2 separate regions of the Homo sapiens genome follow, and region 2 is linked to region 1. The links come from fine-mapping of genetic effects on gene expression. A gene starts in region 1. The other region holds a variant in brackets. All regions are shown on one strand. Distances are from middle to middle. Region 1 holds the start of DUT (deoxyuridine triphosphatase). Region 2 has its middle 59 kb from the start of DUT-AS1.

Region 1 (11,220 bases):
TACTGTCCCAAAATGACCACAGTTGACCTTGTAAAAGCATTTTTGAACATCGGGCATAACTTACAGAGCCCAAGGAATCCTCAACCCAAGAGTGGGCTGTCAATGTCCACCCTGCTATGTAAAACTCAGCTCCCCTTTAGTCCCTAAAGGGTGTACTTTTGGGGTCCTGTCTTGTCCCACAGCACCACCTGGTGACACTATGGAGAGACACCACACCCACCAAATGTTAGACTAAGGGGCAGGTCTAGGATAGCCAGGTTTCATTAAGTGCTTAGTTAGCCCTTGCAGTGGCACATAAAAGTGAGCTAATTCTGGACGTGTTTAGTTGGTGAGGGGGATGCAGCAGGGTAATCTCCACAATTAATTGCAGTGGAAAGAACAAGGAGGCTGGAATCACACAGAGACTCCAGTTTTTACCACATATCCATGTGGGCTCATTTCTAAGCCAGTTTTCCTGATCTGTTAACAAGCCTCCATAAAGCAGCTCTGTAAAAACGGGTGGAGGAGGAGATCTAGCACACCTACTTATGTGGGGGCCAAGGTATCTTGTTAAGTGAAAGATTCACTACTGATGGGATAAAGGGTCAGTATGTAAGGACCACATAAGTGGGGTCTGAATCCCAGTTGGAGCGGACCTGAAACAAGGAAACCACATCAGGAAAGTAGAAATTTCCTTACAATAAGAGGAGTAGCTCTGTATCAAGAGTAGTTAGCAGAGGACACTGAGGGTTCTTCATGAAAGGTACCACATGAGGTAGGGTTAACTTTGAGACAAACATGAGAAAGGCTTTATTATAAGGGAAACAGGTAACACAGAGGACTGTCTTAACAAATTTAGAGAAAAGTGTTTTCTCTCCTGACTTCAGGGAAAGATTTTCTTCTTAAATTTTGCTAAAGACAGATAGCTCTCTTATGAAGAAAATTCTTACAAGATAGACCTGTGTTTTCTAGAACTTTTGTTGCTTAAATAATTACTTAATTATTATATCATTAAATCTGTCATTATTAATTAGGTAATCATTATTTTAAAAATTAAGTTAGTAGTTAAACAAAATATAATTACTTAAAATAACCACAAAGCTTTTCCTCCTATTATAACAAGCTTTCCTCTAATCATTTTCTTTTCTTAAAAATAAAATCTGTCATTTGAATATTACCTTTTAAAGACAAAGTAAATACTTGCAAACATTTACAGAATAAAAAAGGAAATATATTACCTCCTACATCAATAAAGTGTTTTGCAGCCAAGCCTGACCGTGGAGCTAAAAAACAAAAAAGGAGACATTGGTTATTTTAAGGGGGAAGGGCTATATCAGAGATAACTGATGCAATTTAAGCATGTCATTCTCTTCACCTATAATATCTATATCTTCATCTTAACTTTAGCACATGGTTTTGAATTAAAGAATATATATTCATCATACTGCATTACCAAAGTTGGAAAGACTAGTTTAGAAAAATTCCACAAGGTTTTAATTCAAAACTAACTTAAACCACTCCCATGTGACTTCAGTCAGAATTTGTGGTGCTGCAGACAGGGGAGAAGGACTGCTAGAATGAGCTGAAAGGTGAGCAAGCGGGAACAACTGTAGGCTGCTCTTTCAAGAAGTTAAGCCTCAAAGGGGAAGAAAGAGAAGTATGGCCAGCAGGAACACACTACTGAGGAAGAAGACTTTGGTTTTAAGATGGGACACCACAACATGTACAATGCAGATGGGAAGGGAAAGGAAGAGGAAGGGAGAGGGAAACAAACCTAACCAAATAGTAGCAGACCATAGCCTACAACTTGGGACCCCACTATTCATGATTCAGATGCCAAAAGACATGCCTGTAGGAAACACATGAACCAGAGTAAGATAAATGGGCTAATATCAGTTAAGTAAAAATGCCAAAAACTAAGTCTCAATGATTCAATGCTAGTATACTTTTTAATCCTAAAAAATGAAAAAAATAAAAAGCTAAGGTTACACCTTATTATTGCAGACTCAAGCATCAGGCCTATAATTAATTATCCTAACTTCCAGCATTTTATTTTAGAATAATTTAAATCAGGCACTTTGTCAATAATGCTGCCTCTTTCTGTACTAACCTTTATTTCACTCCATCTCCTGCCCCTTCCCCTGAAAAAATTCTAAAAAATGGAGTCAATGATGCTCAAGAGATGAGATGAGAGCCCATCTTGTTATCTTTTAAGGGCTGAAGTACTGGCAGTTTCCTCACTCATGGCTAATAATATAGTGCCAGTCTAGCTCCTTTCCCTGGAGGAGGGCGTCACAGCTCCATTGCCTCCTTTATGTTTACTCTGAAGTTAGTCAAAAAGAACTTACGCTCTTGCAAAGAACTGTCTGGTAACAACTGATCCGCTCCAGAAAAATCAAACCTGTTGACGTGTACTCCATTTTGTCCTAGCTCCTCCCAGTGCCTCTACAACACTGAAGAGTATCCCTTACCCTAACCCCATGGCCAAACAAGAAAAGGTTAAGTAGGCTTACACATTCTGGGACCAACAGGTCAGAAGTTTTACTCTCATAATATAAAATGCCATGTTCTGAGAACAGCCTTCTAGGCCAGTGTGAGCCTAAAAGCTCCAGTGAGGAAGGAGAAAAATAAAAGGGTCAAAAAGAGGCAAAGCAGAGATGTAAATAAAGCCTTTCAAAGAGTGCATTTGCTATCACAAATGGTGCTTCTTTTAGGACACAGCCCAAGCAATATTGCCTGCTTATTACCCCAAATGAAACATGAAGAATCTATCACAAAGGAGAACTTGACAAATAGTTACCTGTTTCTTAAATGACTTACCCACTCTTCCATAACACCCAGAAGGGAGCGCTATCTGAATGTCCGTTTTCACAACAGCTTTCTCCATAGGTGGTATTGTGTAATCATAGGCACTAAGAAAATATTGAAAGAAAATAACTGCAAATCTATTTATAAAATTGTTTTTATATTTTCTTTGTGACCAAGCATACAAAATTACTTTCAGTGTATTTAATGAATTAATGCAACTTTAGTTTCTAAAATCAACCTTGCTATGATGAATTACCAATTCATCTTAAAAGTTTATGAAGAAGGTAGAGGTGGCTATTTTATTATTAAAAAGACAGCTTTAGATAAAATAATTCTCCATGAATATTTTTGGTGGTGTGAAGAGATGTCAACATTGTAAATGTTTGCCCCTGAACAAAAGTTTATTGGAAACTGAGGTACTTATCAGCGTGAAAGGGCAGAAAGGCAAACTTTCAAAAGGTGGATGCTTTACAACCATAGTTTGAAAAGGAAAAAAATGAAGAAAGAACAAAGAAAAAAGGCCAAATACTACTAATAATACTAGCTATCATTGATTAAGCCTTTACTGTGTGCCAGGAACAGTTCTAATTGGTTTACATATATTAACCCATTTTATTCTCACAATGATCTGTGTGATTAGGGAAAATATGCAGAAGGAAAGGAGAAAAACGGGTGGACAAAATAAGAGATAAAGAACTGTGTTGTATCTGTCAGGCAGGGCTTGGTAGTTTACCAAGCTTAGGCTATGAATTTCCTGGCTGAGGGAGACAGCTGATCACCGTGAACGGCCCCTGGAGATGGACCTTGCTTAGGAACAGAATTCCTCTAAAGTCCACATAGCAAATGCTGCTACTCTTGATATTACTGTGGCCCTCTCCTGGGTAGAAATTTAAGAGATTTTACAATGAGCAGAACCGGAAGTTTACTTTGGAGACCTTAATTAACTCTGGTAAAGCAGTACTACCCCTTCTTTCACTGAAATCCCTCTTTAAACAGTTAAGCCCTAATTTATTGCTGATCCATTATTTCCATGTCAATTTCAGTATACAGAAAGTCACCTGTGTTTATTAGGAGTCTACTTAAGGTATCTTAAATCAAGGACTCCCCTAGGACTCAAGAAAGTGCTCCAAAATATACTTTGGAAAGGTCTAGTCAAACTATATCACTCTACTTTTATTCATCAAAATTAAGAGACTGTAGTTTTTCCAGCTACAATTGTCCATACCTACTTTCCTTTTCCTTTTTTTTCTGTTGCTATCATCAGGCACTACTTTCTCTTCTCCTGTGCTTAGACTAATAGTTCTCATGTTTGAATTATCTGAGATACTTTAAAATAAATCCCAATGCTTGGGATTTAGTATAAAATCTCCTTCCCTCTCAGCATTACTTTTCTCCTACCTTAATGGTTCTAAGAACTGGGCACAGTAGTCAGATGAAAAAAAAAAAGCCCAAAATTCGGGATAAAAAATTATATCATCTTCAAGCCTCTGGGGAAATCAATTCAGCTCTTCACAAACTCCTGCCTGTGTAAAAAGTAACACTTATCTAGTTAAGGATTGTTGTGAGGACTAAATACAACAGCATACGGAAAGTTTTTAGTACAGGTAAAACGTGCTGTAGAGATGAAAGTGTGGTAGATTACAGGCAGCTCTGCCTTTCGTTTTCAGATGCCTTCTCAAATTCCGCCCTGGGCCGGATGAATGTATAGAAAATAACTTTTTAAGGCAGATGCATCTTCGTTCATCCTTCTTAGGTATTTTCACGCTCACATCTAGGCTCTCACCTTGGTTTTTCTATTGAGCACAGCATCACCCTCGGGCCACTCGAAAGCCACCATGGGCCTTCCTCTCTATCTTCTATTTAGGAAGGGCACAATAAACGTTGCAAAGTAACGCCTTGCTAGACACCGTATAGCTATTTTACTTATTCTGCAGTCTTTGCCCAAATCTCTATTTAATTTATGCCAAAGATGAAAGCTAAAATTTTAAACACGAAAAAGGCAGAAATCCTATTTATAGCTAGTGTGTTCCTGTGATCTCTCCGGTGACTGTTTCTAGCTGTGGCAGCGGACGGCCGGCCCTTCCCAGCCTCCTCGCCGGCAGGTCCCCGCTCACCTGTACAGGTCGTAGCCCGCGGCGCGCGCGGAGCCCCGGGTGGGGGCCGTGGCGTGCTCGGAGAGCCGGGCAAAGCGGAGCTGCATGCCGCCCACCTCCGCAGGCCGGGCCCGCTTACTGGGTGAAATGGCGGGTGTCTCTTCAGAGCAGGGCATGGCAGAGCCAGAAGGCGAGCGAGGAGACCACCGGGGGAAGAGGAGAGCGCACGATGAGCGTCGCCGCAGGGAGCGCGCCAAAACCGAAATTTCCCGCCAGCCCCGCCCCACCCACCGCCCCTCCCCGGGACGAGTCCACAGTTCTGGCTGAGAGGGGAGGCGGGATTCACATTTTGGGTTTGAAGCCCTTCTCGGAAAGCAGGTTTGGGATGGGAAACTACTGGGTCCCAGTCAACTTTCCACATTCAGCGCGTGGGGCCAACTTTGAAGGGGAGCTTCTAGGGCGTCGCCCTCACACACTAGAAAGCCGCCCCCTCGCCAGGGGACCCTAATGGACCACCCCACCCCCCCCGCCCCCCGCGCGCAGAAGGACCGCTCGCCACCCTACTTCCCCCACAGCCTCAAGCCGCGTGGATTCCTTCCAGACGGCCGGAGCCCCTCCCCCGCCTTTCCTACCCGGCCCCGGCGCCGGGCTTCCCCCCGCCTTAGGAAGCTCGCCCTTCCAGCCAGCGGCCCCGACTGTACTGGCTCCGCGGCAGCCTTGGCTCAGGCGGCCAGCGCTGGACAGCGGCCGGGGAATCCCGTGCTGCGCGGCGCGGCCGAGGGGCGGGCCTGGCCCGGAGAGTACCGCGGCTTCGGCCCTCTGCCGTGCGCCTCGCGCGTTTTGCATCGCTGAGCGAAGCAGAGACGTAAGGAAATGGTAGCAGAGCGCGGGGCGAGGGCAGAGGGGAGTCATTTCCCCCAGAGTTTGGGCTGGTTGGGTCCTCGGCACCTCCGGACGTGCGCCAGGCTTCCACCCTGAAGACGCGCCCGTCCTGGGAACATGACCTCGGAAGCAGTCGCAGCCGCCGCCGGACGAGGGGCGTGGAGAGGCGGTGCCCCGGCAGCCCAGGGATGGCGCAGGCCCTGGGGCCCCAGGAAGACGGCGCCGTTGGCGTCTTGAGTCTTGCTGCCGCCTCTGGCTGCCTAGCCCTCTTGCTTTCGCTCTTCTTGTTTGCTCTGGCCCCCATTTTTCCGAGAGTGTACGCCAGGCCCGGGCCCTGCTCCTGGACTGATTTACCTGGGGCGGCACCGCCCGCAGCCATGACTCCCGGGCTCTGAGTTTAGCGGCGCCCTAAGCGCCGGAACCGCATCTCGGCGCCGGTGACAGTTATTGCGCCCGGGGCCGCTCCCCAAGCTGTGGGCAAGACACCGCGCCCGATTTCCTTTCAGCACCGAGTGTCAGACGTTGTAGTGTTTATTCGACCGGAGGCAGGGAGGGCGCTACTATCCTATCACAGGTTTGGGATAACCCAACAGAAACGCAGTGGGAACCCCTTGGCTAGGAGTCGAACAAGGATCCCGGGTCGTGGTAGTATAGTTTACAGTGGGGGATAAAGCAGTAACTTTCTAGATAGTTGTTAATAATTTTTTCTGAGCTGCAAGTATCTCCTTATTTCTCACAAAAATCTGCGAGCTGAATTGAATGGTTTTGAATTTTCAAAATTAAAAAAGCTGTGGGGCAGTTTTAGAGTATTATTGGGGAAATTTTACATTCGTTGCTATGCCTTTCCATACAGGCCCCCCCTTTTCGGTCTCCTTAACTGGTTCGTCTTCGTAGTTGGAATTCCTTTGCATGAGGCTATGGAATATACACTACCTTCTCTGGACGTTAACTATTAGCTACAGCTTGAGGACTCCCAAATTTATGCCTTTAGCAACACGATCCGAGCCCTGCAACTTTTCGACCTCATTTTGAGCCAACATTATTTTGCTCCCTTATTTTGTTGAAGTACTTTCTCCAGTTATTTACTTAAAATGTTCACATGAGAGACATACTATTTGATTCCTTGCTTGTACTAAGATGTAATGATTGTAACGACTTCATTTTCCTAGACCCAGATAAAAGTCTCGCTTCATTCATGAAACTTTTTACAATCAGTAGTGACCTCTGCCCCATCTTATCTCTTTTAACACTTACTATATCATTCATTAGTCGTTAGCCATATACTTTCATTGTGTAATCTTCTGATGTATATGCATTTTATCTCTCACATGAATTAGAGTCATAAACTTTTATGAATTCTTCAAAGCACTTACTTCAGTGTTTACACAAAAGTTACTTGTTTGGCTTATTACAATATCTAACACCAAGCAGGTTACCTTCTATTTTTTGTTGTTAATCTGTATACATAAAGTGTTTATTGTTACTTTTCAGCTGAGTTTATTTTAGACTAAAAGAGAAACGGCCATAATCTAACTGGCAAAAAGTAATAGGATTCTGAGCCAGTAAGCATTTAATAGAACGTTCTTTATGACAATAGAAATATAACTTGTTATGAACATACACCTTAAATGCAAGATACTGCAGTTAAGAACTAAACATGTTTCAACCATAATTTACTTCATAGTTTTTGTTTTTTTTTTTGAGACAGAGCCTTGCTGGAGTGCAATGGCTCGATCTCGGCTCACCCCAACCTCCTCCCAGGTTCAAGCAATTCTCCTCCTCAGCCTTCCAAGTAGCTGGAATTACAGGCATGCGCCACCACGCCTGGCTAATTTTGTATTTTTAGTAGAGATGGGGTTTCTCCATGTTGGTCAGGCTGGTCTCGAACTCCCGACCTCAGGTGATCCGCCCACCTCGGCCTCCCAAAGTGCTGGGATTACAGGCGTGAGCCACCGCACCCTGCCCTTCATGGTGTTTTCTTTATCAGACTATAGTTATCCTATCAGTCATGCTGATTAATTCAATTACCTAAGTCTAGTGCCAATTTGAACCTTCTGAAAATGCAAGTCAGTACTTGAAAAGCATGGTTGTTTTTCCTATCTTTGCCATTTTGGGGATTTCTCTCTCATTTTAACAAAGATACACATTGTTACTACTTTATGTCAGGTGTATTCTAAGTGCTTTAAAAAATATTAACTCGAGGCCAGGCGTGGTGGCTCACACCTATAATCCCAGCACTTTGGGAGGCTGAGGCGGGCGGATCACCTGAGGTCGGGAGTTCGAGACCAGCCTGACCAACATGGAGAAACCCCGTCTCTACTAAAACTACAAAATTAGCCGCATGTGATGGCACATTCATGTAATCCCAGCTACTCGGGAGGCTGAGGCAGGAGAATCGCTTGAACTCGGGAGGCGGAAGTTGCGGTGAGCTGAGATTGCGCCATTGCACTCCAGCCTGGGCAACAAGAGCAAAACGACGTCGCAAAAAAAAAAAAAAAAAAAAAATTGGCTGGGTGCAGTGGCTCACACCTGTAATCCCAGCACTTTGGGAGGTCAAGGTGGGAGGATTGCTTCAGCTCAGGAGTTCGAGACCAGCCTGGGCAACGTAGGCAGACCCCATCTCTACAAAACATATACAAAATTAGCCAGGCATGGTGGGTGGCAGGCACATGTAGCCCTAGCTACTCAGGAGGCAGAGGTGGGAGGATCACTTGAGCACAGGAGTTGGGAGGCTGCAGACAGTTATTATCATGCCACTGCATTCCAGTCTGGGCAACAGAGTGAGACCCTGTCTCAAAAAAAAAAACTCGTTTAATCATGACAACTAGAGGAAACAAATTCTTTATCCCCATTTTACAGATGAGGATACCAAAGCACAGAGTGATTAAATAACTTACCCAAGATCACACAGATCACAACTAGAAGGAGGTTAAACCACAATTCAGATAGTCTGGCCTCAGAACCCTTGCGTTTAGCCACTGTGCGCTGTAGATTTATATGTCCCCTGTTGAGTCTATGGTAACTCTTTTGCAGTTGTTGATGTTGAGACAAGGTCTTACTCTGTCACCAAGGCTGGAGTACAGGTGGTCCTTCCACCCCAGCCTTCCAGATAGCTGGGACTACAGGCACGTGCAACCACGCCTGGCTAATTTTTCGTACATTTTGTAGAGATGCAATTTCACCATGTTGCCCATGGCGGGTCTCTTGAACTCCTGGGCTCAAGCAATCCGCCTTTCTTGGCCTGCCCAAGTGCTAGGATTACAGGCATCAGCCACTGTGCCTGGCCTTGTGGTAACTTAATACTGACCTTGCTACTGGCTGTGTTTCCAGGTCTGGGAGAGATGTTTGTAGTAAATAAGCCAAGCATTCTTAATTTCACAGTTGATCATACCATCCTTCTTGAAACACTTCCTCCCATTTCACTGGCTGTCTCCTCAGTCTCCTTGGCTCCTCTTCCCTTCTCAACCTGTTATTGCTCACGATAAAAACCCTTGGAGTCTTACTTACCTCCTCTTTCTATCTTAGGTCTTCCCTTACCTAAAAATAGTCTCCTCCTAGGCAGCATCTAATGCTTTACCCTGTTGGGTTTTTCTGCATAGTATATATTGCTATGTAAAATTACATGTATATTCACTTGACTCGTTAGCTGTTTGTTTCCTCCACTATCATATAACCTTCATGATGGATTTAAACCTATCTTAATTTGGGTTTCAGATGTTCCTTTTTAAAACCTTTTCCTGCCTTCTGTGAAATTTACTAAATGTTTTTTATTTCACCTTTCCCCTCTAATTTAGATGTTTTACTCTTTAGTTTTATTATTTTAAATAAATTAAAACATACAGTGTCTAAAATATAAAATTAATCAAAATGATTGTCTTCTGGATAACTCAAGGACCTTAGACTGCTTTAACACCATTAACCCTTCTTTTGACAAATATGCTATTACTGTCTAGTGTATTAAATGTATCTTTTAATCTCAATAAGCATCATTATTTTACTACTTTTTATAGTCATTAAAAAAATATTTACCCATGCTTTTATTACTTTCTTTGCTCCTCTTTCTCATCTCCGACCTCCATCTGGATCACTGTCCTTCTGCCCAAACCTCCCATGGAGAGGATCTCCAATAGACAGTTGAGCTGTCTTAGTTTTTTGTGAGTTTGAACAAAACTCTCAAACTCCTCCTCGGGGGAATATGTTCTTTGGCGATCATTGAGGAATGGAAGAACTGAAAAAATTAATGGAAAATTGTCATCATTTCCTATAACTGAAGGAATCTATATTTCAATTTAGAACATTCCATCATGGAACAAAATACTCATTTATCATGCCACAGTTCACGCTTAATAGAAATATGTGTAAGCCAAAAAAAGACAGAAGCCATACTTTGGGTTCTGGTACCAAAATTTAGAAGTGCTCCTTTGTTTCAAGCCCAGAGGTTTTTATACCATAGGATAAGGTGCCAGTCAGGTTTTGGATAGGTAAGTGTGCCCATCTTTTGCAAAAGGGCAATTGCAATAGAGGAGGTAGGAAGAAGGGCTAGAATATAGGCAGATCAGTTTCAGTAAAAAGTACATTTGTATGTTGACTAGCTGACGGTTCATTCTTATAAAACTGTTTTGTCCAGAATACCATCAGGAAACTCCTTGGAATGTCTTATACTCCCCCGAGAGTATATATGGCTGAATGTGAAAACACTGAACTGGGGTATAATTTATGAAACCCACAAAAATGTTCCTGCCAGGTTCTTGGGAAGAGCACAAAGACCAGATAAATATATGTAGACTTGATTTCATAAGACCAACACAGAACTCTTAAGCATGTAAGTAGCTCAGTAGATTGACATTGAATGGCAGTTAAATAAACAGTTAAGGAGCTAGCAGATAATCAACAAAACAAGCATTTATTTCTGCAAAATTACTTTGGACAAGCTCACAAATGACTGCCTCATTGAACTAAAGGCTCAAAGGGAGCAGAATACTTAAGCCACAAACTCAGAACTATAGTTCTCCCTAATACACTGAATACCCAATCTCTCTTAACAAACATAATCACCATGAAAAGCATACTCTGAATTATGCCAGTGGCGTAGAAGCACTAGGAGCCAAAAGTTCTGTAATTACAGTCCAGAGAAAGACTATTGTTATTTCATTTTAAAGCATCATTGAGTTTTAGGAAGTGAAATAAAAACAGGCCGGACGTGGTGGCTCATGCCTGTAATCCCAGCATTTTGGGAGGCCGAGACGGGCAGATCACTTGAGGTCAGTCGTTTGAGACCAGCCTGGCCAACATGGTGAAATGCTGTCTCTACTAAAGATACAAAAATTAGCCAGGTGTGGTGGTGCATGCCTGCAATCCCAGCTACTTGGGAGACTGAGGCAGGAGAAACACTTGAATCAAGGAGGTGGAGGTTGCAGTGAGCCAGCCTGGATCACACAATTGCCCTCCAGCCTGGGCG
Region 2 (11,220 bases), 59 kb before region 1:
CTCTGATTCTGTGAGACTCAATGCCTGGGACAGCCCATCACAAGTCACTCTCCATTCTTCTGGTTTCCATAGGGATACAGAGAGGTATCTGACAAGAATCTGGCACCCAAGCCTTGCAAACTGCAGTGACTAACGTGACAGCTCCACCTCCACTTGACTTAAGTGATGTGTGTCCCCGTTTGAGAGTCATGACACAGGACCGTGTGCTCTGAAGTTCTAGAAGTCCTAAACCCCAGGCCTAGGTTTTTGTATGTTTGGAAAAAAACTTACCGATTTGCAAAGCGCTGTCATGTGAGCCTGTTCTCCCCAAGACTGAGGATGATAAACAACCCCAGTGAGCCCATGACCTGGCTGCTGTGAGTTCCAAGGGAGGGGAGCCCTCCCTGACCATGTGAGGTGCCCCACACCCTCTCTCTTCCCTTACTCACAGCCTTCCACACCCCCACCAGGGAATGCTGGAGGAGAGGAGCTACTGCTCAAGTCTCCCAACTAGGGTGAGCTCTGGGCCACCCCCGCTGCCTCCCAGTCACAGGTGGCTAAGAGGAAGGGTGCTCCCAGCTCAGATTTGTGGCTGGAACAAGAGAGTCTCAGGAGAAAAGCTGAGCAAATTGGGTCAGACTTCTGAACAGGGATGGGAGATTCCTTGGAGTGACTGGGTATGTGTCAGCTGCTTAATGATTCCACTGTCTTCTCCCAACTTGTAAGGCACCGCCCTCCCCTTGGGGAGCTGCAGCTGCCAAGGAGCGCTGCTCAGTGCTCTGGCTGCTGTGACACGCGTGCTTAATAATAATGAGCATCATTTATGAAACCCTTAAAATATGCCAGGCAGCCTGCTAACCACTTCACAAATGTAGCTGCTTCATAAGCTTGGGATAAAAATGCAGTCACAATCTTTCAAATGTGTACACTAAATGCCTTGGCACCCCTGTTATGTCTATGTAAAAACCCCAAGACCCCAGGAAGGCTTCTTCAGTCTAAAAAGTCGGTCCAGATGAGTATTGCCCTAAGGCATTAAACCCGAAGCCTTCCTTAGTGTACCAAGGAGCCTCATTGTTTTTGGCTATAGTTGCCACTGCCTGGCGGTCACCATTAAGATTCTACAAAATCCCTGACTGTGGACTTCCTCCCAGCGAAACAGATGACAAAAACCCCTGCCCATTCCAGGAGCCAGATCCCTTCAGACAGGCACTTTCAGAATGGGAGCAAGGCCAAAAACACTGCACATGTAAGGATGGCATCTGCTCTTCTCCACTGTCCTTGGTGTGTGTGTTCTCAACTCAGGGACCCTTGGCTGGCAAACAACAAGTGCCAGGCACAGCTCTGGCACTTTATATGCAGTCCTCTGCATTCACACACACAGTTGTTTTCCAGACTCAGCTACCCACCATACTTCCTACTGTGCTATGGATCTCATCCCCTAAATGGCAAAGAAGGTCTACCTCTCCATACACAACACCAAGCCTATTTCCTGTCTCAGTAGGCCTGGTGTGCTTTTCAGGGAATTGTCCCACCTTATTATTCGTGGGTGATCTTTTTGAATTCTCACACCTCTTTGCATAATTAGCTCCATCTCACAAAAGAGGAAACAGGTAGAATGATGTGAAGGGACTTGCTCAAGGTCACACAGCTAAGACCTGGTTGAAGTGAGACTTAAACCCACACCCTGAACACGCTCTTCACAGCACGGTTTCATCCTGCCAAAGCATTCTTGGCTGGGACATCCACCTGAGTTGAAGTCAAGGGAAGAGGTTCTTGAGGCAGGTTAAGGTGTTTCTCTGTGGAGCCACTGGACCTGGGCTCAATGGGAAGAACCAGATGGAGACAGCCAAGCTGAAAGGCCTTATCTGAACTCCACTAGAGGAGATGAACATCGAGTCGTTTGTGAGTAGCCAGAACAAGTCATGCCACATGCGGGGTGTGGTAGTTTCGTACACATGTTGGCCTTGGACTGTGGCCTGGCCTGGCACTCTTACTAGGCCAAGGGCCTGGGTTAAGGAGACCCAGGAGGGTAAATGTGAGAGAATCTACAGGCACGTGTGCCAGTTTTGTGCCTCCCTCCACTCCTAGGCTGTTTTTTTTGGCCTCAAACTCAGCGCTCGCCTTTTTGGCCATAATCGCCTCTATACTAGGTCTGATGCTTTTTGGACAAAAACTCATGGGAAGAAGGGCTTTTTCTGGTCTCACTTGACAGTCATTTGGATACATGAACTTGCCTTTTCCGGTACCACCCCGATCACCCCTTTGTCTCCTAATAAAGGCCCATCATGGTGAAACACTATCTGGTCCAAACAAGAAGCTGGCATGGAAAATACTTAAACAGAAGTGAGATTTGAGTCCCAGTTAAGAGCCAAGCAATGAATGGAGAAATCAGAGAGCTGAGGTTATGGGCACAGAGAACAGAAAGAGCAGGTGGCTCTGAGAGAGAGACCCATAATGTGGGGTGAGAGGTGGAGGAATGTTAACAGGAAGTAAGCTGCGAACCACCAAGCCAAAGCAAACACAGGCTCCAAAACGGCCCATATGGCCTATCCATAAGGAAGGCGGCCAAGACAGAGCACAGCAGGAGGAGGGGAGGGGAGAACGCCCGGCTCCTTGCTCAACTGTCAACAACTGGGGGAGATGGTGCCAGTGATCCATTCTGGGCTCTACTTGAATAACTCAGATGGGGTGTCTTTGCCCCTTAGATCAGAGTAAGATGGGCTTGAATTCTATCATCACCCCCTACCCCAACCCCACCAGCCTGTGGAAATGTAAAACTCTCCCCCTGGTTTCTATGAATTCCTGAGGGCGTTTGTAATTGCCATCTCCTCTGGTAAGCTTCTACTTTCCAGTGTGTGGTGTCTGTCGTGCACCATAACCTAGGCATGAAACACAGCACCCCACCAGCGCCGCTTCTGTTTCCATGCACCTCTGCCCTCTCCACTTCCAAATTAGACCCTAAAGGATTTGGGTTTGAGAAGTGTTGGAAGAGAGGATTGGTCATCATGATATAAAGCAGTTTATATGACAATGCTTTTTCTCATATATCTGCTTGCCTTTGGGCTTTTTCGAGGAGTAAACACTTTACTACTACATGAACCTAAATATATATATATATATATATATATCTTTTTCATGACAGAAGGCTTTTATGACATGATGGGTTTTTATATAAGTATCAGATAATAACCACAATTATAGCTAACATTTATTAAGAATGTACCAGGTACCAGACACAATTAAGAAGTTTATATGAGTAATTCATTTTATTCTTACATTATCACCATTTTACAGACTAGAAAGAAGCCCTACTAGAAATTGAGTGGTACCCTCTTCAAGGGTTCACAGCTAATAAATAGCAGGACAGGGATTTGAGCCCAGGCACTCTGACGCCAAACCTGCATTCACCACTAATGCCTGTCTAGATCCACAGGAGACCCGAACATCCCCGGAGAGGGCGAAGAGCAGCTACAGGAGTACCAGGACCGTTTGTGTGGGAAGCAGAAGTTGACGGAAGAGAGAAAGGAGATGAGAAGGCCTGATTGATTATTAGGTCAACAGAATCTGGGCACTGAGAGGGAATGATCTATTTCGTGAACAGACTGCTTTGCTCTTGGAGTCATAGTCTCTGGAAGTGGATCAGAGAAAAACCCAGAAAATAAATGCAGCTTTAGTGAACAGAGAAGTAACCTTAGCCTGAACCCAGAGAAACAGGGTATGGGAATTAAGATGAGAACTCGGGCTTCCTGGAAGGCTGGGCAGGAGGCTCTGTCTCTGTTCTATGCTGCAGAGACAAGAAGGTTCTTGGCTCCTTGCCACTGGCAATGAGAATAATGGGACAGAAAGTGGGGAAAGCCTGTTAAGCCTGAAACAACAAGAGGAGGAAAGAATGTTACCAGAGTCTTGTAAGAGCTAGAACCTAAGAGAAAACGCGGTGCGGCCACTGCCAGAACTGTGGGAAGGCCAAGAGGAAATCAGAGAATGCTCCAAACTCTTTTTCCCACCCCCTAAACTCACACTGTTACCTCCCATTGCCCAAACCTAACTAAAAGCTGAAGGCAAGGTACTCTAGTAATATGGTACATAAAGAAACACAGAGCAAGGCACAGAAAGGCAAAGAATGGATTAGGGCGGAAGGGTAGAAACCGAAAATAACCAGCACCTCCTATGACCCAGCAAGTCCACTTGAGCTTTGTACAGTAAAGAGGCTCAATGCACTGTGTACAATGTGCATGGACAAGAAGGTTGGCAGCAATACTATCTGTAAAAGGCCCAAGCTGGAGACTACTCAAATATCCACTCATAGTAGAATGGATAAATAAACTGTGTTACATTCATTCATACCTAGGGACACCAAAGCAATGAAATTAATTAACCACAGCTATACACAATGGCAAGGATGAATTCCACAAACAAGGTTGAGTTAAAACACAAGGAAAGTATAATTCTATATATATTAAGTTTGAAATTGAGCTAAACTAACTTACATTACTTATGAATACATATAGGTGATAAAACTGTATATATATATACATAATATATGTATATTAAAATGTTATGTGTGTGTGTGTGTGTATGTGTATGTGTATATATATATATATATATATATATATATATATATATATATATATATATATATAAAATGATTATCACAAAAATCAGGATAGTGTTTACCTTTAGGTGAGAAGACAGAATTATGATACAAGCTGTTCAAGGGGAAAGGGAGGAAAGGGCGGCCTGTGGATGGTGGCAGTGTTCTA[T/C]GTCTTGATCTAGCTGTGGTTACACAGATGTTTGCTTTACATGTATTCATGAAAAATATGTTTTAGCTACATACTTGTAACATCCTTAATAATACAAATAAAAATGGAAAACATGTTGATATGGTTTTCAGATATTTGCTAGACATATGTATATATATAGTATATTTGAGATAATCGCTGCATTTGCAATTTTTCTCAATGCTAGAGCATAAGAATTTTCTGAAACCCATAACAACTCCTTTCTAAGTTAGTTTTAAGGCTAAATAATATTGCTGAATAATGTATATTATAAAGTAGTTAACTATTCCCTTATCAATGACTTCTAGGTTGTATCAATACTGTTTCATTTATGATACTTCTTGCCCTTTCTAATAAGTAGTTATTTTAAGGAATTCTAACCCATACTTTCATACTCCCGGCTTTCTTTGGGTGATAAGAGAAAAATGAAAAGAGTGTTAGTTAATAGTTCCAACTGACCCCCTAGTCTAAGCTATCTCTCCCTATGATTAGCCCTATCATCCTTTCTACTTGTCCTTCATGCCACTTATCATAATTGCAAAATGTGCAATTAGTTGGCAATTAGTTGTCCCTGCACTTACTTGGTCAATGTCTATCACCCCTATTGGGACCTCCAGGAAGGCAGAGAACACGTCTGCTTTGTTGATCTCTGTCCTCAGTGCCAACACAAAGCCTGCCTAGCACAAGGGTGCTCATTAAATATTTGTCAAAGGAATAAATTAATGCATGAATTAACAAATGAATTTGAATGTATCCAGTCTTTCTGCCCTGCCCAACTTTGAAAATGAGTTTATCTCCTCCAGGAAAAAGCCTCACAAAATAGAGACACCCCTGAATGTACAAGCAGAGGCCTAATTGAGAGGGACGAGGGTGTGGATGGAACCCCTTACTAGTTGTGATACAAAATAGAGGGTCTCCAAAATTCTTTCCATTCCCCAAATCTCAGGATGCAGTCACCTAGCCAGGGCCAGGACTCAAGACAGGAAGAGTAGGACCCTGTACCAGAACGGAGAGATAGTATTTGTTTAAAAGTAACTGAAGAGTTACTGGAAGCCATGTTCTTTCCTACTGAAACAAACAAACAAACAAAGGTTTGTTTGTTTTTTTAAGCTAGTTTATTTGGCCATATATGTAAATAAGCGTCAAAGGAGTGACCAAAAGAAAAAAAAAAAAAAAAAAAAACTTCTTAAGTGCAATAATTTTTTAAAGTCTTACTAAAATGTGGAAAGACTTAAATAAAAGACACATTTTTCAATAGTTTGTCTCAAAATATGAGGCCACTAATTTTCCATGTCTTATGCTTTTTTACACACTAAATTGAGAAGTCCTGAAAAAACCGTGTTTCTCCCATCTTTATCGGAATCAAGAACAAGTAACATTTCTTGTTAGGATATAAAACAGGGAAACATAGTTCACATATATTGCACAAAATTATTTAAAAAGAAAACTCTGGAAAGAGACAGAACTATGCACAATGGAAAATTGAAAATTCTCCAATTTCAAGATGAGTCAGCAAATAACTTTTATATGACAGCGACCTGGGAACCCTGCTGAACAGAAAAACCTACTTTAATGGGAAATCAGACCTATTTCCTGACTTTTAGGAACCATAATCATTTGAAGACCTCTTTTAGGTGATGTGTCCATGTCTTTGCCTGTTGAAATTTATTAGGAACAGAATATGATATTCCCAGGACAATACTGACCCACAGGAAAGGATCCTCACTCAGTGGAATGTAATTACATCAGGCCTCCTTGTCCCAACCTTTCAGGCTTTTCTTTCCCACATGGTGCAAGCTGTTCGGTGGGGCTGCCAGGTTTTAATTAGAAAGTCTTAGGTTTCCAGGGAAATCATCGGCACCTGGCTTCTTGCTTACACCTCTCCCAATCCTTCTCTCTTTCACCCCCAAATATTAATTTCCCCTTGCCTCAAAAGGGACATGCTTTTGCCAAGGATTCTTAATCCGTAGCAAGTTGCTCACTCAAAGAAAGGAGGTGGAGAAGGCAGGGGAGAGGAGAGGAGAGAAGAAATGGTGAGTTCTTTCCTTTCAACATTGATCATCCAAATAGTTTTGGTATTTCCTGGTGCTTTGCTCGGTGCCTTCTTATTTTTGAGATGAAACTGCCCACTATGTAATTACCTGTGTATTTTTAACTGATAAAATTGCTACCCTCTTATTCCCAATGGAATTGGGGCATAGAAAATGAATAGAGTGTCAAGATCCTGAGGCAATAACAACAATCTACTTAGTAACTACTCCCCATCTCCCTGTTACCTCTGAATTCATATACTTGTCTCAAATTTTCATTAGCTCAAAATTAATTTTTCTACTAAAATGTCATAAGTGGTGAACAATACCTAGTTTATTGCAGTAAGAATAGGACCAGCTAGAATCAAAAAGTTTGTGTCTTCCCCTTTCTCAAGCACAAAGCTAGCCAGACACAGACACATTGTTCAATGTATTTGTCACCTTTGGTCTGTCTGCCCAACAGCCCTCTCTTTTTCTGGGAATGGTAGTGCCCTCTCTTTAGGGAATTGTCTCTTCTCTAATCAAGTAGATTTATTAAAGACATGGGGCTAGAAAGGCCGGCTCCATCTGAGAGTATGCCCAAGATTCTAATACACTGGGAAGTTGTTAAATTTCTCTAGCAGGATGTCCAGCCAAGTATAACTTCAATACATTTTTAGAAAGAAAATTTGCCAAGAGCTTTTGTGTTTAGGAAGATGCAGAAAGTCATCCTGGGAAAGATGATACTCGATGTTTCCCTACAACACTTGGATGGTCTAGGTTATGCAGACTTGGCCACTCTCCAGGAAGAAGGGTGTGTTACACACTCCAGGTTCAGAACTGCTGGGGTGTTTGTGCAGTTCTACAGAATGAAAGCCTCTCTGATGGATCGAGACAGTCCTAACAGAAGTTCCCCGGGACATCAAGGGGCCCAGAGAAGAACTTCACAGGCAGGAAGCAGGAGTCTGGATCAATGAACAAGGCCACGGGTTTATAGGAAGAGCTGGTTCCAGGAGTGTAGCCTGGGCTGGACTCCTGCATGCTCAGCCAAGACCAGCCACCCTGCTGTGGTATTTATGTTTGGGAGGCTATAAATAACCTTCTGCATATAACTGAAGAGAGCCTACATCTTGAAGCCTGAAGGTGAGGTTAATTCAGAGCCAGTGCAGGACTCATGAGGGCCCATTGCCACAGCAGACAACATGCAGGGCACCCTGCAAACCACACTAGGGCATTAACTGCCCAAACAGCCTAAAGCTTGGGAGCCAAACTAACCCATCTGCACTGAACAAGTCACCAGGTTTCTGTACAATTTAAGTTGGGAGCCAAGGCTTCAGAAGAAAACAATAAATTTCCTACTAATATGGCCAGATGAGGAAGGTTGTTGTGCAATTGATTGGAACAAATATAAACATAGGAATGTAAATGGGTTATAGCCAATATTAAATGGCTTATATTAAAGGTACCTCTCTACATGAATATTCACTCAGAAGATCCATGACTTTTTAAATGTCCACTTGTCCATCACTGGTGTTTAGTGTTGGAAGAGAGGGTGCCTTTGTGTGAATGGTCTGTCAGTCAGGAGGTGCTTACAGTAGAACTCTGGATGCACATCACTAGAAAGTGTTTATACATTCCCCCCACACTGGTATTTAACTGCATCTGTCCAGTACTTCAGAGTTAAGGCCAAGCCATCTCCATTTCTAATTCAGTAGAGACACATACTCCATAAATGAAAAATTGATGTCTGTAATCCCGACATTTTGGGAGACCGAGGTGGGCGGATCACTTGAGGTCAGGAGTTCAAGACCAGCCTGGCCAACATAGTGAAACCCTGTCTCTACTAACAATACAAAAATTAGCCGGGCATGGTGTCAGGTGCCTGTAATCCCAGCTACTCAGGAGGCTGAGGTAGGAGAATCACTTGAACCCAGGAGGTGGAGGTTGCAATGAACCAGTATTGCACCACTGCACTCCAGCCTGGGCTACAGAGTGAGACTCCTTTTCAAAAAACAAAAAAGAAAGAAAGTAAAACTGAGACATAAGAGGACAAAATACCTGAAATCAAAACTCAACAGGTTGTGATACTTCATAGTATTGGTGTTTTAGCAGTGTGGTTGTGACCATGGACCTTAGAACTAAAGTGTCTTGGTTCAAATTCTAGCTTGATCACTTACTAGCTGTGTGACTTTGGGAAAGTTACTTAAATTTTCTGATCCTCTACTCCTCATAGAATAGAGATAGAAATGGTACCCATTTCACACTTGCTCAGAGCACTTACATTAGCCTACAGTTGGGCAAAATCATCTAACACAAAGACTATTTTATAACAAATTGTTGAATATCTCATGTAATTTGTTGAATACTGTACTGAAGGTGAAAAATTGGATGGTTGTATAGGTACTTGATGTATGGTTATACCGAATGCATATTGCTTTCACACCATTATAAGGCTGAAAAAATCATTTAAATAGAACCATAGTCAATTAAGGCTATCTGTATTATCTCACACAACTTCTGAGGGTCAAGTGTGACTTAGCTGGATAGCACCCAGGAGTGGCTTAGCTGGATAGTTTTCACTGAGGGTCTCTCATGAGGTTACAGTCAAGTTGTCAGCAGGGACTTCAGTCATTTGAAGTCTTGACTAGGGCTGGAGGACCCACTTCCAAAATGGCCTCATGTGGCTATTGGCAGGAGACTTCAGCTCATTACCATATGGGCCTCTCTGTAGTGCTGAGTACAACATAGCACCTGGCTTCCCCAGCGTGAATAATGGGAGGGAGACAGAGACAGAGATAGAGGCCAAATGGAAGCCATGGTGTCTTTTATAACTTAAACATGGAAGCAACATACTATTTTTTCTTTCATACTATATTGGTCACATAGACCCACCCTGGTGCACTGCCGGAGGGAACTTCACAAGGGTGACATTGTCAGAAGGTAGGGATCATTGGCAGTCACCTGGTAGGCTGGCTACCACACCAGCAGAACCAAGGGGAGCAGAGACTGAGTCTTATTGACACTTCTTGACTCCCTGGACCATCCATATCTCATATGAATCAATCACTGCCTTTCTGTGCTTAAGCTGTTGTGAGAAGTGTTTGGTCCATTGCTACGAAAAAGTTCTTGACTGGGATAATTGTTAGCTCTTATTGAGCATTTAATCAATGCCATGCAGTGTGCTTGAACCTTCATGACAACTCCATGAGTTAGGGATTATCATTCTTAATTTCCTTTTCCCAGATGAAAAAAACTGTGGCTGAGAAATTATGTGGCTTGGCGAAAAGTCATGCAACTGGCAAGTGGTAGATCCAAGTTTCAAACCCAGGCAGTTTTATCTAGAGCCTTGTCTCTTCCTATTATGAAAGGTCACTTTTTTTTTTTTTTTTTTTGAGGTGGAGTCTCGCTCTGTCACCCAGGCTGGAGTGCAGTGCCCAATCTCGGCTCACTGCAACCTCCGCCTCCCGGGTTCAAGCGATTCTCCTGCCTCAGCCTCACGAGTAGCTGGGACTACAGGCACGTGCCGCCATGCCCAGCTAATTTTTTGTATTTTTAGTAGAGATGGGGTTTCACCATGTTAGCCAGGCTGGTCTCCGTCTCCTGAACTTGTGATCTGCCTGCCTCGGCCTCCCAAACTGCTGAGATTACAGGCGTGAGCCACTGCACCTGGCTGAAAGGTAACTCTTAAGCATTTCCCCCTCTTGATTCAGTTTGAGATCTTTCTCCCCTAAGATGGGCTCTCAGCTTGCATTCTCTCATAGAGTGGTTCACATATAAGCTGAAACTGGGCCCATATCCAATGAGTACTGGGTGGATGGCCCAGGCTAAAAGCTGAAGTGAATCATAGGAGAGAAAACTGTTGCCCTGCTAAGCCATTCCTATTGTGGCATCCATGACGCATATCCAGCAGAGGCCAACCAGTCATCTATCACCAACCCAAGGTGCCTTCAGTTTCTGATCCCAGTAATTGAGGACATGTGTTACTCTGCAAACAGTCCTGATGGGAAATGGGTGGTGGTTCTTCCCCTCTGATGCTTGGGAAATGAGAGGGCAAAGGAGGGGAGTAGAGAGGAGGCTGAACACTTTTATTTTTTTTTATGTTAACAGCTCTAAATGATTAAGGGTAGGAAGGGAATGGCAATAGAACATAAAAATGCTTTGTGTAGAGTTCACATTTACTCGCACTTTTAACTCCACTGTGGCTTATTAGTTCACGGGAAAAATTACAAAAGGAAATAAAAACCTGACTATGAATCCAGTATAAACAATTTGCAGCCATAGTAACCAAGAAAGTGCAACTCCTAGATTAAAAAAAAAAAAATGTCTGTGCAAGAGTGTCCATGCAGAGGATGTCAGGAAATGGTTACAGAGTGAAGAACTCAGTCAACCCCTGGTCAGTGAAGCAGAGCAGCTCTGAAGAGGCTGCGTGCATACCCTGCATACCCTGGCTAAGA

What was found. PIP is the estimated chance that this variant, and not a neighbour inherited with it, causes the effect.
Region 2: its variant is fine-mapped to the expression of DUT in neutrophils (BLUEPRINT, PIP 0.95).

Annotation. Positions count from the first base shown.
Region 1 is chr15:48,326,088-48,337,307 of GRCh38, reverse strand. DUT (deoxyuridine triphosphatase) reads right to left here and starts at 5,879. Exons shown (of 7, transcript NM_001025248.2): 1 at 5,513-5,879; 2 at 4,902-5,040; 3 at 2,800-2,891; 4 at 1,218-1,262. The coding sequence starts at 5,792. DUT-AS1 (DUT antisense RNA 1) reads left to right here and starts at 5,452. Exons shown (of 3, transcript NR_186809.1): 1 at 5,452-5,745. RefSeq lists silencers at 222-291, 5,102-5,396, 5,447-5,656, 7,650-7,840 and enhancers at 5,102-5,396, 5,320-5,844, 5,845-6,371.
Region 2 is chr15:48,385,114-48,396,333 of GRCh38, reverse strand. No RefSeq gene overlaps it. Among named protein-coding and RNA genes, the nearest start is that of DUT-AS1, 59 kb to the right of the region's middle. The variant T/C (reference allele first, on the strand shown) is at 4,740.